Linked DNA regions of Homo sapiens. The protein of the gene in region 3 interacts with the protein of the main gene of each other region in a pairwise test. Each region holds a gene or a part of one and is shown on either strand. Other genes may lie near its edges.

Region 1 (4,016 bases), on a different chromosome or scaffold from region 3:
AAAACAGGTATTGTGGACAGTGTTTCCACCTCTTGAATTTAACTTCTTTCTTGGCAACTATACTTGAAGGTAACAGGGAGAGATGTCTCTTAGTTGGCAAAACACACACTTAAAACCTGAGCATTTTCCCCCAGGATGACAGCAAGATACCAAGGATGCCAAAGAAGGAAGGAGTGTTAACCTAATCCAGTAAGAGAAACAAGATTTTAAAATACAACAAAAATGTTCCAATGGGGGAAAAAAGGTAGTTCACCGGTTCACGACTTTAAAAAACGTTGGCAGTGGTTGATGGGCTTATTTCAGGAGATATCTGACTTGGTACCAAGAGGATAAAGAGGCCGGGAATAATACGTTTGTGCAGCAAAATGGTTATGTGACCGATTTTTTAAAACACAGAATTCTGCCCCACTGAATACATACACATACCACAAGTAAAATGAAATATACTTTTAAGTGCCCGTTTTGGTGCCACTGGCCAAAATTAAAACTCTCCTTCCGTATGTGAGGTGACTTGAGATTTCTTTTTTGCTTTAAATGCCTGCCTTCAGGGTACGTGAAAGTGGGAGACCGGTTGGAAAACTGGGGCTAAGGGGGCTGGGAGCGAGATGGCTGTGACTGAATCAGGAAGCTGGATGTGAGAGAGAAAAATCCTCCTCCAGCCTCGGAGGGGGTGTCTCCCCTAATACCAGCTCCCTCCCCCCGGGCTCGTGGGGCGGGTCTGGTTTGCTCAGTAGCGGCAGCGGCCGCAGCAGCAGCCCCGGGGCTGAGCAGCGGTGGCCTCCTGGCAGCGCAGGGAAGCGGCGGCTCCAAGAGCGCGAGGCCCTGGGGAGATCCGGCCAAGACTGCTGCCGGGATGGAGGAAGCGTCCAGTGGAGCAGGAGTCACCGGGGACGAATTTCCTCCCCAGCTCAGCTCCCCTACAGCTTGGCTAGGCCTGCTCCGAGCGCCTGCAAGGTGGAGGAGGCCTGCGCCTCGGGCCTGGCAGCGGCAGCCGGCGAGGGAGGCGGGCACAGCGGGGTAACCGGCGAGCCGTAGCCGCTCTCGAAAACCTACGCTGCCACGGCCGCTCATTGTCTCTCCCCTTCCACCCGGGGGCAAACAGGAAGCGCGCCGCCTGGCAGACCGACGGACAGGCGCCTGGACCAATGAGCACAGCCGACAAAGAGCACGGCGGCGAATGAGAGCCAAGAAGAGGGGCGGGAGTTCCGGGCGGGCTGTCACCCTCTTCCCCCCTTTTGGGCTGGAGGCTCCACCTTTTGTGTTTCCCGCACAGTCAATCAAAATAGGAAAAAAAAATCCCCGGACCGCTCCGGCCGTGTCCGCCGCCGCTTCCCGCATCCTCTCCCGCCGCCGCCGCCTTCGCTCCTCACCATGTGTAAGGCGGCGGGGAGCCCCGCCTGAGGTGCCCTAAACACACTATGACCGGTACGTAAAGCCGAGAGAGCAACCCTTGCTGCTGCCGCCGCCGCCGCTGCCGCCGACCACAGCCAGCCCGGGGCCGCTGCCGCCGGTCTCGGCCCCGTGTGTGCGACCGAGTGTCTGTGAGAGGCAGAAAGCTGCACTCCCCTGCGCCTCCCTCCCCTCCCCGCCAGCCACCGTCCACCCCCGAAGCCCCAGCAACGCCGTCTCCCCGCCAGGCCCCGGGGCGGGCGGCCCGGTCCGCCGGGAGCGCATCCCCCTGTGTGCGGGCGCGGGCGGGCGTGTGTGAGTGACTGACGGTGCGAGAGGAGCGAGCGCGAGTGAGAGCGAGCGGCGCGAAGGGAAAGGGGAGGAGAGGAGAGGGGGCAGGGGCAGCGCGGGGAGGAGGAGGAGGAGGGAAAGAGGAGGAGGAGGAGGGTTACAGGCAGCGGCGGGCGGGGGCAGCAGCAGGAGGGGAGGAGGGAGCCGCCGCCGCCGCCGCCGCCGGGGGGCGGGTGGGGGAGGGGAAGGGGCCTGGGTCCGGGCTTTGGGAGTAATTTCGCTTCGGCCCGCGGGCCCCCTCCCTCTCCGCCACCCGCCTTCCTCCCCACCCCCACCCCCCCGCGCTGTGCCTGCAGCTCCCGAAAAGCCCGTGAAACAAGAGGAAATGGCTGCCTTGGACGTGGATAGCGGCGGCGGCGGTGGCGGCGGCGGCGGCCACGGCGAGTATCTGCAGCAGCAGCAACAGCACGGAAACGGTGCGGTGGCGGCGGCAGCGGCGGCCCAGGTGAGGAGCGGCTGAACCCCGGCCCGGCTCCCCCCTCGCGCCGCTTTCTCCTCCCCTCGCCTCTCCCCTCCCTCCTCGCCTCACCCCTCCCTCCTCGTCTCTCCCCTCCCCTCCACTCCCCTCCCCCCGCCCCGGGAGCTGCCCGCCCGAGGCGCCAACGCTCCGACCCCGCCCGCGCCGCCCCGCCTCGCCCGCCTGCCGCCTTTTTGTGCGCGTGTGAGTGTGGGCCCCAGCGTGCCCTCCCGGGGGTGGGTTCCGGGCGGAAGGCGGAGGCCCGGCGCGCAGCCCGCCGCCCGCCTGCCCGCGGACCGGGGAGCCGGGGTGCTTGGAGCGGGGGACGCCAGGCGTGGGCTGGCGGCGGGACCAGGAGGAGGAGGAGGAGGAGGAGGAGAGCGCGGGCTGGCGCTTGCCCGGGCGCAGTCGGCGGGGACCGAGTCGTACTTCCTGTGCGAAAGGCGGCCCGACCCTAACCGCCACCCCCTCCCCCTGTCTCCCTCTCTGAACCCGCCCATTGGGGGTAGGACACTCAGCCGTCACCGCTCGCTCTGCTGGCCGCTACCTGCAGCAAGATAGGGCCGCCATCGCCGGGCGACGACGAGGAGGAGGCGGCCGCCGCAGCCGGGGCCCCCGCCGCCGCCGGAGCGGTAAGTCCCGCGCGCGGCCCGCCCCCGCCGAGGCCGGGCGCCCGCCATCCCGGACCCGTGGCGCGCCTGCCCAAAAGGCCTCCCCGGCGCCCGCGCTTCCCCCGACCCGCACGGGCCGCTGGGCTCCAGGGCGCCCTTTCCTGCTCTTTCGCATCCCGGTTTGGATCTGAAGCCAGCCCAGGCTTTCTCGAAATTGTCACTGCAGCACCTCGCGCAAAATCTTCACAAAATGAAGTCTGAGAGGGCGGGGGTAGAGGACTCCAAAATGGATGTTTGAGCAATTCATATCAGTGCTGAAAACTCCTTCGCTTAACACTACAAAATTTTCAAGCACAGCCTATCGGCCATAGATAGTATCAACTAGAGGCAATGTCTTTAGTTTTTATTATTTTTGAACCTGGAGCATTTTCTGTTGGACGTTACAGGATCTTACTGCTTTAAATCATACATTATTAAAAAAAATGAGGGTTTATTCTTTGAATTACCCTTTTGTATGCAGGAGTGAAGACTGCTTTTTTAGTTGACCATTCAAAATCGTTGAATTTTAGTTTTTGCAGACTACTAAAATTTGCAGTGACTTTTTTTTTGTAAGGGGGGTAAATGAAACATTTAGCAGCCTTTGAAATCAGCAAGTTGCTTAGATAGTACTTTAGATTTTGAAACTGAATATAACAGTGTTAGAAAAGTATGTGTAAGGAATTGTATTTACGTGCATACTAGTAGTACAATACTTATAGCTGAATTTGGTTGGCAAAAGTATGTTTTCATTTTATTACGACTGCTAGTCAGGTAAGATATGGTGGGATTCTTTCTGTAGTGTTTTCAGTGTCTGGGCAAGGGGAGGAGCTCGCCTGTGTTATATGAGGGGTTAATACCAATAGGATAGGAACAGTTTTTAGACTGTTAATTGTGAATTTTACATTTGGGTCATCACTGTTGTGTAGATTTGTTCACCTATTAAAATAATGAAAACCCTCATTTGAGTGTGTGTGTGTGGTGGATCATAGGAATTGATTTGTGGAGTGATACTTTCAATAGTCACTGAAGACAGAAGTTTGGTATTTGGTATAGTCTACAACAAATGCTTAGTATGTCCAGGTATTTTTTTTTTTTAAGTTAAACCAATGTTAAGCTATTACTGGTAAATAATTTGTAATTTTAGTGCTTCGTTATAGGGGATGTGAATA
Region 2 (3,721 bases), on a different chromosome or scaffold from region 3:
ATCTCATTTAACCTAATCAACAACTATGTGATGTACATATTGCCTCCATTTTTAGAGGAGGAAACAGAGGCTTGTGGAGATTAAATAACTTGTCCAAAGTTACACAGCTAAATTGAGAGGGTACTGAAGTTTCAGCCTTGTCTTCTTTACTCCAAAGGCCGAACGTCCTCTGCCAAACTCCTCTATATCTCTGCAAACACATACTAAGCACCTGCTTTGTGCAAAATACTGTGCTACGGTTTGAGGGTAGACCAAGGCCTGAGATGTGGCCTGCTAAATGAAAGAGAAATTTTGGTTTTGGTCTCTAGGATAGCCCTGTCCCATCTGCAGATTTTGTACATAACCCCAAAGGAAGAAGGAGGGAATTTCACATGCAGTCAGGCAAGTGCTTAATAGAATGCATGGTAGACCGTAAGGGATGCAGTAGAGATTTCAACAGATTGCTGGAGGAGCACGGTGCATTAGTTGTGATGGGAAAGGTGTCTTACAGAAAGAAGAGTAGAGACAAAGCCTTGGAGGAAGTGTAGGGTTTTAATAAGTGGAGAAGTATAGGAAAGGTCTTCCAGGCTAAGGGAACCCCGTTCAAACATTCAAGGTGTATTTCATTCCCAGTCACCTTTTTCTTTTGGGGAGCAGAACAGGGCAGTGGTTACAAATATGGGCTTTGGAAGGCTGCTACCTGTGTTCTGTAACTTACTAACTTTGGGAACCTGGGCAAATTACTTAAATATTCTGAACTTTGGTTTCCTCATCTATAAAATGGGGATAATCATAGCATCCACCTTAAAGAATGATGGGTAGGCAGGAATGAGCCTACTCTTATAAAATGCCTTGCACACAGGAAGGACTAAATAATCTTAGTTTCACGGTAATGCTGCTGCTACAGCTTCTGCTACATTTGGGGGCTGCAAATATTCTGCGTGACCCAAGCATTTGATTCATGGAAGAATTAGTCTACAAAGGAAGGGATATGATGGTGGAAAGCCTATGGTCTCGTGCGTATCTATCACTGGATTTAACTTTCCATTTCTTTACATTATTAGCCCCTGAAAGACAGAGATGATGCCAGTTTTTGTTTTGTTGAAATTTTTCTAACTGATGATTGGATTTCATGCAATTCTGGAATTAAAGGTCTGACTTCTTGTTTTCTGGAAGGAAGTCCTCAGCCTTTTCTTCTCAGTAACACTCATTGGGAATGACATACACATAGTCTGCATGGTCATGGGTGTGATCAGGCCTGTGTGACATTCCTGGCATGCTACTTAGCACCACCACTCTGTCTCCATTGCAAGGAAGCGTATCGGAATGCAAGTGAGTCAGAGTGATATTATTATAGGGGATAACCTTAAATCCCCATAATTTATATTTGAAGCAGTAAATTATTCATGAACTTGAGCTATTAATAGCAGCAAATGACTTGTGGGGCAACAATGAACCTGATGCTGTGGTTAAGGAGGAGGAGGGGAAAGCAGCCCAAGATGGGACAAGGACCTTGACAGCATGGAGACATGCCTGGGAAGAGCAAGGCCCAAACAACATTTGTTTCCATGTTTTGCCATGAACTAAGTTTGGTGACAAGGTTGCCTCAAGGCTGCCTTGAAGCTGCAACTGGTATCTTGCTGGCTTCCTAAAGTTTGAGAGGCAGTAAAGGATTTCCAGGGTTGGGCTTGCAATGGGTGTCTACTTGTGTTAGAGCCTCCTTCTTTAGATCACTGTACAGCTGCCCCAACCCCACTGCCTGCTTTTCCACACCCTGAAATGAACTTCTTGCTGTATCTGTCTAGGGTGTGGCCAGAATAAGTGGAGAGAAACAGTCTGGGGGTTCTGTGTTGTCACACCATGAGGGTGACAAGAGGTGTCTGGCACTAAGCCTGGAAACCCCCAGCACAAATCACTTCTGGGGCTACCAAATAGCACGGTGATGCTGTGTGGGTAAGAACTTATTGCAGGAAGTGTAGCCAGAGATGTGGGGAGGGACAAGGCTGCCCGCCACCTAGAGAAAGAGGCTTCTGCTCAGGTCCCACAGCAGGAGCATCACTGTCTGGCCCTTGCTGCATGACCCTTTGTGCTTGTTAGATGCCAGAACAGTTGCTGATGCCTAAATACATGGAGACCTAGGACTCCTTATTTCATGAGTCTTGACTTTAAATTGAAGGCATTTTTAGGTTCAGGAAGAGGATAAAGGGTAGGCCGTACTTCTGGTACATCAGTACTTAAGGGTGTGGCAAAGTGTGATGGAAAGAAGTGTTGGAGAGCCTGTCTAATTCTACATCTAACTGCCGGTGTGATGTTAGGAAAGCTGCCTTGTCACTCTGGTCCTCCATAAAGTCACACCAGACGAGGCAATTTCTGAGGTCTCTTCCATTTCTAAGATCCTGAATCTAAGTTGCAGCAGAAGTGATGGAGGAAGAAAATTAAAACTGGAATTTGTGGTTCTAGGTCTCAAAAAGCATTATCTTATTCTGACTTTCACCTTTGGTAATCAAAACAGGTCATAAGGGTGAACTAATAACCTGTGTAACAAGTGAGAGATTATAGTTGTTTTCCAGGAGTGCGTGATCTTGTCCTGCTCGGTAAGAATTTCACCATCAAATGAGGGCACAATTTGTAGAATAGATTTACAATGAAGTACTTTTTCCAATAGGCTACTCTTCACGTGTGTTATGTGCATACATACACACATGTACATACATACACACATGCACACACACTCTTAAGCTTCTATTTAAAAATGATTTGATGGTGATGAATTTTTCATTAGTTTATTAACTCAGGAATCAAAATATACATACATATATATATATATATATATATATATATATGTATAGTCACTGCTATGTTACTAACATTCAAGTTCTATGGAATTACATCCGTGGGGCTGGCAGATTCAGGAGGCTAGTCTTGGCCTTCAACACGTTCTGAGAACTTAACTATTAGAGAATACTATTTCTCAACCACTCTGCCTGCAATGTTCTATCTAATTAACACTTTTATTACTTTTCTCCACTGTACCTGCTCAGACTTCAGGTCCCTGAAGTGGCCTAATGTTCCCTATTCTACCACTAGCTTTATCCGTTCTTTATTCCGGCTGGAAGATATAGCCCACTGCTGAAACCCTCTGTTGCTTTTTTATCTTTATCCATCTCTTGCCCAGCAAACTCCAATCTTAGCACCTCAACTCTTACCTTTGGAGGGCTAAGAGGTGGTGGAGCAGATCTCACTAACTGAACTTACTGATATCCCACAGCCTCAGGGACTCAGCCTCAGCCAAGTCTTGACACTGTCTGGTTATCTTTACTCATGCACCTAAACAGTCTCTCATTCCTTATAGCAGCTATCTCAGCAGTCTATCGCCTGAAATCTCTTGCCTTCCACTTCACTCTTAGCTCATTAACATCTCCCACTCTATAAAGAACATAGACGTCAGACTGGAAATCTCTCTGATTTTCACTGCCCCCTACCCTTTTATCTGTATCTGCATGCACCCTTTTCCCCTTCTTTCTTTCTGCCACACCAAGATGAATTCCTCACTCAGGCCTCTGGATGTGCATGACTCCTTTTGGGTGGGAAATCCTTACAAACTGGTTTTGCTCTCTGCTACCTCTTCTTTCACCACTGACTCTTTTCTCTCAGCATTTAAACATGTTTACACCTGTGTGTCATTTTGCAAGGAAAAAAAAAACTGTTCGCATCCCTGTTGTTTTGGTTTTCCCCATGGTAA
Region 3 (3,513 bases):
GACCTTGCTCCTCCCCCAGCCCAGCTAAGCTGGGAAACCACGTGACAGCCAAGAAGTGCAACTGGCCTCAGGCCCAGAGTTGTGGGGGCACCCCGGACACCTGGGTGTCCATGGGAAACTCTGAATCTTGGCCCAGAAATAACCCTGTCCTTCCCCGTTAACTCCTCTCATTCCAGTGCCTGAGCACCTCCCCCTACCAGGTATATCTGTATCAGGGTATAGGTGCACACAAGCTCATGTATACCTGGGCGTACAAGGGCCCAACATGGCCCACGAGTACAGGATATTTAAAGGCCCTCACAAAACAATGACAGGCTTCTAAGACACTTGTCTCTTACTTTCATTCCAACACAAATTGAACTATACTAGGCTTTTGCTTTTTTAGGCCCTAACAGAAATTCCGTGGTTTAGGAGATTAGGTACACCCTCACCACTCCACAGGGAGAATGGCCTGAACGTCAGAGTGAACCCCTGACCCCTTTCCTCTCTGAATGAGGCAAAGCTCAGACTTCACCTCTACCCCTAAACAAGGCACCCAAACACACGTCACAGTAAATAAAGGACATCCAGAAAATATCACAGGCAGAGGTACTTTATTTGGCAATTTTAACATGACACGTAGAGAAAAGAACCCTGCCCTCCTTCACCAGCCTCCCCAGAAATCCCACCTTCCTATTTCAAGACAGAGTAATAACAGCACCATTTTACACGAAAGGGAACAGCCACAGCCTTGGCACCATTTCTGGTTCCACTTTCCATGGAAGGGCAGAGAAGCATTGCTCAAACCCCACCACTGGGTCAGAAACCAGGCAAACAGCAGCAGTCACATCTGACCTTTTGCACACACGAGAGCCCGACACTCATCCTGGCTCCCAAGCCTTCCCAAGGTGACCCTGTCTCAGCCACCATCATGCAGCTCTTCTAGTCCCCTCCCGGCCCACTCTGAGGAGCTGAGCAATGATGAGCAGAATCTTCATGTCTCTGGCAGGCGGAGGAGGGTTCCTGAAGTGGTAGAGATGCTGTGCAGGAGAAAGACAAGGCTGGAGCCAGACGCCTAGGCTCAAGCTGTGAGGAGAACTTAGAACTTGGGAAGGGGTGCTCCCGGGTTCCAGAGAAGAATGAGAGCCACTGGCCTTCACTAGGAAACTAAGCATGAGCTGGGAGGAAATCCCACTTTGGGTCATTGCTCCATAATCTGCCAGAGGCCAGGGAAAGACTCACCAGTCCACTAGCTGGGCCCCAATGAGGTCGTGCACATGGTAGGTGAGGCCAAGCCGCACCACGACAGGCGCCCGCCGGCCCAGGAGCTCTGATAGGAGCAGTTCCCGGTACTTTGCCTTCCGGACCATGCTAAGGACAGCCTGGCGCCCTAGAGGAGAAGTGGCACAGGAAAGGGGAAAGGTGAATAAGGCCTAGAGGCCTGAGGAGCCACCAAAAGGTGAGGGGCTGCAGGCTTGAGCTGCAGATGGGATACCTTTAACAAAGTACTTGATGAATCTCCCAGCTCCAGGCACAGCTAGCCACCAGCTCCCAGCATCTCGGACGGTGAGGACTCCAGCATTCACCAGATGCCTGAGGGCAGTGGGAAGCCAGCAGAGATGAGGGCTGGGCTCTGAGAACCATCTCTCCTCCTCATCCATTAATGTTTACACAAGTCTCCAGAAACACGGGCAACCATGCAAGAGAGACTGGATAACAAAATCCCAGCCTGGGGTGGTTCTGTGCTCGCACCAACTGCCTCTGTTGGTGCAGTTGCTTGTTCCAGGCCCCCTACCTGGACTGCCCTCCCTCCACTTTTTCTTTTCCTGCTACTATTACTGGTTCAGTTAAATAGCTTCTCTTCCCTGACCACATGTCCTGACACACATTCGGTCTTAGGACCGAGGAGAGGAATCAGAGTCTTCTGCGCTCCTGCCACTGCCTAGGCAGACTGCGCCATGGCTCCCACCACATCTCTCTGAGAGTGTGTCTGCCCATGTGAGATCAGTGCTATAGTTTTTCAAATGCTTTCACATATTCCATGGGTTACAAAGTAGGAGGCCTGAGCCAGATACAGCCTCTCAAAATTAGATTTTTATTTAGCTCCTGCCCAGTTGTTTTTTAGCTTTGGGTTTTTTTTGTTTTAATGTGAATGTTTAGGGGTATCCCAGCTCCTACCATTCTCTATCCTCTTAGTCCCAGTATGATTAACATCAAGCTTTTACACTTCCTGCCAGGCCCCTGTGTGCTTTTGATAAGCCACCAAGAACTGAATTCTATTTCAGGGCTCTTTCTAAGGCCCAGGTAAGATAGGCCTCCTCTCTTGTGGGGAGGAATACAAACTTGGGTCATTTTATTAACAAGAAGAGTCAGCTTTTTGGCAGCTTTTCTGGCAGGTTCACCAAAAAAACAGGAGGACAGGCTGGATGGAACTGGAGGGAGGCAGGGAAGCACCAGATGCCTGACTTTGGTTGGTTCCACAAGTCTCACGTGATTTCTGAGTCCCTGAAGCCAAAGGTCTGTGTCATTTGGTCCTGCTGGAAACTAAGGTCCCCACAGGCTGGAAGTACTGAAGCTAGAAATTTCTGCACTGCCCCAGCATACGGTCGGCCATCACAGGCCTTGAGGACCTACAAGCAGAGATGAGAGACATGGTCCATCCCCACCCTCACTCTCTACCAACCTCCACCCCCAGGACAGCATTTCTCTTCCTGTCTTACCTCTTGCTCAGATCCTTCCACCTCTCATACCCTTCTTCTTCCTCCTCCTCTTCATCCTCCTCCCCCTCTTCCTCCCCCCCTCCTCCTCCCCCTCCTTCCTTCCTCCTCCTCCCCCTCCTCTCCCCCCCTCTTTACCCTCTCACTCCTCCCTCTTTCCCTCCTGTCTCTCTCCCTCATATTACTATTTACCAGGGCCCTGTGCCCTCTCCATGGGATGTGGGGGCAGGGAAATTCTTTCTTTTGTTTTTATTTCTGTTTCCCAAGTTCCCTGTCTCCCCCAACCTGTGCCCTCCCCCCAGCACCCCTGACGCACACAGTCACATACTCTGGTCCTGTAGTCCTCAGTGAAGATAATTCCATGGGCATCCAAGTCGAAGCCCAGCTGGACGATTCTGATCTCCCCCTGCTCTTGAAGCTCCTTCTGTCTCCACAGAGAAGAGAGTGAAAAGAGGCGTATCAGGGTAAGATGCTCTGCTATACTCTGGGCGCTCTCAGGCAGGGAGATTTTGTTTGCCAATATGGGGGCATTTTCTCTTAGTAAAGGAAAAACTGTGTGAGAAAATAATCAAGCAAATGACCAAGCAGCCTTTTCCAACTAGCTACCCACATTCTCATCCACCTGCCTTATATATGGTCTATCAAAGAGTCAATATAATTTCTAAGACCAGGCACTAAGATAAAATAGTGATTAAGATGCAGGCTGTGGCTTCAAAACATTAACAGTCTAAATTCTGGGTAGGGTAAGGTGGGGAGGAGTATGGGATTCAATGTTTAAAACAAATAAAAATAAACCAGGACTTCTGTTTACGAGAAT

The links.
Region 1: the proteins of WHR1 (region 3) and SP3 interact in a two-hybrid assay, tested with the Homo sapiens proteins (one study listed by BioGRID and IntAct).
Region 2: the proteins of WHR1 (region 3) and MAB21L3 interact in a two-hybrid assay, tested with the Homo sapiens proteins (one large-scale study listed by BioGRID).

What each region holds. Positions count from the first base shown.
Region 1 is NC_000002.12:173,962,574-173,966,589, reverse strand, and holds the start of SP3 (transcription factor Sp3), read left to right. Parts: upstream 1-1,216; 5' UTR 1,217-1,418; coding exon 1,419-1,425; intron 1,426-2,036; coding exon 2,037-2,185; intron 2,186-2,706; coding exon 2,707-2,829; intron 2,830-4,016. UniProt on the Homo sapiens protein: Transcriptional factor that can act as an activator or repressor depending on isoform and/or post-translational modifications. Binds to GT and GC boxes promoter elements. Competes with SP1 for the GC-box promoters.
Region 2 is NC_000001.11:116,114,371-116,118,091, forward strand, and holds part of MAB21L3 (protein mab-21-like 3), read left to right. Parts: intron 1-3,721.
Region 3 is NC_000006.12:31,978,510-31,982,022, reverse strand, and holds the end of WHR1 (winged helix repair factor 1), read right to left. Parts: intron 3,121-3,513; coding exon 3,025-3,120; coding exon of another isoform or gene 3,013-3,024; intron 2,610-3,012; coding exon 2,470-2,609; intron 1,573-2,469; coding exon 1,475-1,572; intron 1,370-1,474; coding exon 1,222-1,369; intron 1,020-1,221; coding exon 974-1,019; 3' UTR 577-973; downstream 1-576. UniProt on the Homo sapiens protein: DNA-binding protein which is required for efficient transcription-coupled nucleotide excision repair (TC-NER). Acts as part of a TC-NER complex which assembles and interacts with RNA polymerase II (RNAPII) when it stalls at DNA lesions.